Linked DNA regions of Homo sapiens: region 1 is linked to region 2. Evidence: fine-mapped expression QTL. Tissue or cell type: whole blood. Region 2 holds a variant in brackets; the other region holds the start of a gene. All regions are shown on one strand. Distances are between the middles of the regions.

Region 1 (2,685 bases), 350 kb after region 2:
GCCAGGCATGGTGGCGGATGCCTGTAGTCCCAGCTACTCGGGAGGCTGAGGCAGAAGAATGGCGTGAACCCGGGAGGCAGAGCTCGCAGTGAGCCGAGATTGTGCCACTGCACTCCAGCCTGGGCGACACAGCAAGACTCCATCACAAAAAAAAAAAAAAAAAAAAAGAAGAAGATTAAACATTAGATATTAGATGGTCTGTTGCATGCTAGAACTGTTAGTATTGTTGGATCAATTACTTTGGTTTTATGAAAAAATTAATGATAAATATCTTTAAAGAGAACTAGAAGAATTTTTTGTTTGATTCTAGGCTGTAACATGATTATTTACGGACATAGTTTGATTGGCTGGCTAACTTAGTAGAATTAATTGGCTGGCTAACTTAGTAGAATTATTGTTTTTTTTTGTACTGCAATAGGGCTTATAATTGTAAGATAAAAATGTGTGTGTGCTTAAGGGAAGTAAGTGCTGGTTAAAATTATTGAAAAAATTTCAGAATACTTTAAAAATAAAGTTTCAAGTTATACAAAAAAAAAGAAATTCTAAATTTGTATGCATGTCTTAACATGGACCAATCTATGTTTAGATACAAAGCAAAAACTGATCTAAGTAAATAGAGAAATAGTTAAAACCACTGTGATGTGGGAATTTAACACACCTCTCTGAGTAACAGATAAAACTAGCAGACAAAAATTCAGCTACATATAGAAGATTTAAATGGCATGAGTAATAAGTTTGCTTAAATGACATAGAACACTGCACAGAAAACCTTCACATGGAACATTCCAGAATAAGTCATATGCTGGGCCATAAGGCTAGCCTTGATAAATTTCTGGGGCTGGGGTGGGAGGTAATACAATCTACCTTGAATGGTTAGTGTGAAGATTAAAGATGTATTCCCTGCCCCACTACCACCTCTAGTGTACATCCAAGGAATGTTAATTTTTACCAACCCCTGCCTCAGGTGACCCTCCTCATACCTCAAACCCTGGCCCTGAGAAGGCCACAAGACTCAGGCCTGGGCCCTTGCCACTGCCCACCCCCATCTAAAGGGAGATTGGCTGGGTGTTATGTGGGTTAGGGTAAGGTGGGGAAGGGGGCTCAGTCCCTTTTGCCCTGTGAGACCTGAGACTCCAGCCTCATGCTGGCCAACTCACCCGTAGTGTGTCCTGAAGGCAGTGACATTTTACCAATGTCCTTATAGGGCTCTCTTGAGGAGAATCTGTGTGGCCTGGGGACGGGAGTTTGGAGAAGATTGAGGAGGGCTGCTGACGAAGGCGAGAGCAAGCCTCAAGCCTTGCTTACAGGAAGTTCCTTCCCCAAGCATAGAGAGGAGTGTCCTAGGAGTCACAGAATTAACTTCCTGTTCTTACCACTCCCCAAAGTTTGCTGCCAGCCTAACACCCAGGGAGATGTTTCTAATGTAGCCACTCCTGCAAAGGTGGTTAGCAACAATCACAATCATGAGGCCTAGGACCCAGATACTTATTGAAACAAACACGGAAAACTCAGCTTGCTGGTCATCTCCAGTGCATTACATTGTATTCATTTACTCTGCAGACTCAGAGACTCAGAGACTCAGAGTGCCTATGGTAGCTCAAGCTCTGTACTTGCTACATTACTTTTTTCTCCATGTATTCCTCACAAGGGGACTCTCAACTCAGAATCACCAGCTTCCTGAAGGTGCTGAGGCTTAATGAGGTATAGGACCTTGTCTGGAATGATTCAGATGTGACCTGGAGAAACAAAGTGGAAATGAGAACCATGGAATAGTGGGTGACCCCTCTATGCACAGCTTTTCTAAACTCTTATAATATTTGGGGTTTACTTAAGTTAGGGCAAAGTAAGACAATGTTCTGCAAATACTCGTGTGACTGGAATTAACTACAGCCCATCCTAGAGAGAGAATACAAAAAACAGACCAGGAAAATATAAAGTAAAAGTTTAGTGTGTCACTGTAATGAAAGTAGAAAAGAATCAAGTATTGTCTTAAAGACAAAATAAAGTATAGTCAATGTAGATGGATACTCCTAATGATTAGAGCCAGAAATGTAGCTCTTAAAGTCTCAGGCCAGAGAGAGGGAATAAACTAGTGAGAGGTGACAGCTTGCTGGCAGCTCTCACAGCCCTCGCTCGCTCTCGGCACCTCCTCTGCCTGGGCTCCCACTTTGGCGGCACTTGAGGAGCCCTTCAGCCCGCCACTGCACTGTGGGAGCCCCTTCCTGGGCTGGCCGAGGCCAGAGCTGGCTCCCTCAGCTTGCGGGGAGGTGTAGAGGGAGAAGCGCTAGCGGTAACCGGGGCTGCGCGTGGCGCTTGCGGGCCAGCTGGAGTTCTGGGTGGGCGTGGGCTCGGTGGGCCCCACACTCGTAGCAGCCGGCCAGCGCTGCTGCCCTGGGCAATGAGGGGCTTAGCACCTGGGCCAGCAGCTGCTATGCTCAATTTCTCTCCAGGCCTTAGCTGCCTTCCCGCGGGGCAGGGCTCGGGACCTGCAGCCCGCCATGCCTGAGCCTCACCCCCACCCCCGCCTCCGTGGGCTCCTGTGCCGCCCAAGCCTCCCCAACGAGCGCCGCCCCCTGCTGCACGGCGCCCATCTATGAAGGTGGAGCTCTCGTGGCCTAATTACTTCCCTAAAGCCCTACCTCTTAATACTGTTGCACTGGAGATTAAGTTTCAATGTGAATTTTG
Region 2 (2,685 bases):
CCCAGACTGCACTGCTGACACCCCCTCTCCCATTAGCTTCCAGGAAGGAGAGTGAGAGGGCTGGGGAGAGGGAAGGGGCAGACACCCAGCAGTCCCTGGTTGGGGAGTTGGGGCGGGGGTGCAGACACACCAAGGGGCGGTTTGGTATCCATCCGCTGCTCCCTCCAGCGCGGCTCTTCCCAACCTCCTGATCCTGTCCCCTGCCTGGGTCCCCAGCCGCCCGCCCGTCCCTATATTATAGCAACGCCAGAAATGTGGTGGTGGTGGTCGCCACGTTAGGGTCCGCGGGGGTCCTCCTGAGGCAGCCTGGTGCCAACCCGCAGGCCCAGGCTGGGGCTCGTCATGGCCCCGCCCACCTCTGGGTCGGAACTAAGGTGGGCCTGAGAGGGGGGCGTCGAGCACTTTCGCGCCGTATCCCTCCGCCCCCCTTCCCGACACCCTCGCGGAGAGAGCGGTTCTTGCAGCATCCTGCGCAGCCCCTGCCCAGTTTGGTGCAGAGGCGTGGGGGGCGGGACGCGTCTTTGCCATTCTGATAGCGGGGAAAGCGGTGAGAATCGAAGTGAGGAGCCGCCAGAGGAGAGCTGAGGAGAGGAGGGGGAGGTCGACGACCTGGGCCCTGGGCCTCTGAAGGCAAGTGGGGGTGCGTGAGCTTGGGGTGGTCCGCCAGGGTGGACCGGCTGGCAGCCTGCCCCGCCGACCCTGACATCCTGGCAAGGAGGAGACGATCCGGTCGGAGCCGGTCGCCGGAGAGAGGTGCGCAGTGCTCGAGACCCCTGGCGATGGGGAGGCGGTGACCGGTGCAGGCCGAGCCAGGCCAAGGGCTGAGGGGCTGGCTTGAGAGGCACCGTCAGATCGTCTGGAGGAGAACCGCGCTGACCGCCTCCAAGCCAGCTTTGCAGGCGCCGGCGCCCCGCCCTCGACGGTGTCTGTGCCCGGAAAGGGCTGTGGGGGAGCTCCTGCGGGAGAAATGG[C/T]GGAGCGGGAGCCATTGTGGGGGGCTCCCGGGAAGGCCGGGGGGAGCCGGCGTCCCAGCTCTGTGCCCAGCCCACGAGAGGTGGGCCGCGTTCGCTACTCGGGGCCCTGATTCCGGAAAGGGGCCTGTGGGACCCCGTGTCTTGGGTGCTGTCCCTTCCCACAGGCTCCAGGTGGTTGTTAAAGTCTCCTGTCTGCGTGATAGGTCTGTTGGGTTCTCCAAAAGTGGAACTTTGAGTGGGTGAATTATGAAGACACTAAAATGAAATGTTTAACCGCCTTTTATAATACCGCACTGTTTTATTGCCTTACATATTTAGATCCCCACATCCAGTTTTGTGCAAGCAAATAGGGTGTGGACTTAGTCGAATTTCACAACAGTGGTCCATGTAAATAACAGGGTAGTATTTTTCCACCTTTCTTGTTCAGGATCTGTTTTCTCAACATGCTGATCCACTTTAAGTAATGTAATGATGTGTGAGAATGTGGGTTCCGAGTAGAGGGGTAATCTTTTTGAAGGGTCAATTTAGAACATTTGAAGTCAATCTGCTTCTTCAGTTTATGGTTCTGGAAACCAAAACTCCATCTCCAGCCACTCCTCACAGACCCTCTCATTTTGGTGCAGAAATAGTCCCACAGAAGAATTCATGGCATTTCTGATGGTGGATATCTGAGGAGCTATGAGAGTTGGGAGACTTTATTTACTTAGTTTCTGATTCTCAAAAAGGAGGTGTTAGAATCCGAATTCTGGGAATCTGTCCATTAACCTGCTATTTTTCTACCATTGTTAACATAGTCTCTTGGGGTTATTTTTTGCTAGTTGCTCCGCCTTCTTTTTGTAGGGCGTGACTCTTCTTTGGTGGGAAGGATAGCATCTCCTGAGAACTCCTGCTGTATAAGCAGGCTGACATAGGTGGTGAATAAAGTAGGATCTAGGTATGCATGGGGAAGGGGAAGGACATGCACAGATGGTATTAAAATAACAGTCTCCATTATGTTCCCTGCCTGCCTTGTAAGTACAATTGCCTATGTTCCACTACCTATTTCTGCACCTCATTTTTTTTGGTTCAGGAAAGGAGCTGTAACTTCTATTGGGAAAATGACTGACTTCAAAGTTGGCAGGAGGTGTAATCAGGCTGCAGGTCTTGGGGTGATTAGGGAATCATTGAGGAAGAGCAGACAGGTGGGAGACATTTAACATAGCCTTGAATATTCAAAAGCATATGTTATAATCCTTGTTATAGGCATTAGATCATCTTAGTCTCTTCTGTTTTCTTTCCTCTGCCTTCCTTTCTATCCTTAGGTCTGTTTCTTTCTAGGTTCCTGTAGAGATCTGTATGTAGCTGTTCACTTGGAAGTTAATTAAGAAAGAACAAAAACTATTCATTTGGATTCAAGGTAGGTTTATGTGTGAGCACCCCCGTTGATTGGGGTTATGGAAAGGCTGTTGCCAAGTGGGTTAGACCAGATCATATCTTGGTGCCACTGTCTTCCATCTTTCTAGTCACCTCTGACCTCACATTTGTGTACAAGTGATGGGGTGGGGTGAGCCAGGATTATGCCTATGAGGTAATTGGTAGATATTGGGGCAGGAAATGGGAAGATAAGCCACAAGGAGTACTAGGAGGCCAGAAGTGTTATATAACCAAAGCCCTAGATTTGGAAAGGCAGAAATTGGGTTTAGAGATTAGAGTGTAGGTCTGTCAACCAAATACT

Evidence for each region. PIP is the estimated chance that this variant, and not a neighbour inherited with it, causes the effect.
Region 1: NXF3 starts here. The variant in region 2 is fine-mapped to the expression of NXF3 in whole blood (TOPMed, PIP above 0.99).

Annotation. Positions count from the first base shown.
Region 1 is chrX:103,091,839-103,094,523 of GRCh38, forward strand. It overlaps NXF3 (nuclear RNA export factor 3), which reads right to left and starts at 1,305. Exons shown (of 20, transcript NM_022052.2): 1 at 1,158-1,305. The coding sequence starts at 1,185.
Region 2 is chrX:102,745,545-102,748,229 of GRCh38, forward strand. All of the region lies in intron 8 of ARMCX5-GPRASP2 (ARMCX5-GPRASP2 readthrough), which reads left to right. GPRASP3 (G protein-coupled receptor associated sorting protein family member 3) reads left to right here. Exons shown (of 4, transcript NM_001142524.2): 3 at 2,273-2,367. Among named protein-coding and RNA genes, the nearest start is that of LINC00630, 22 kb to the right of the region's middle. RefSeq lists a silencer at 874-923. The variant C/T (reference allele first, on the strand shown) is at 972.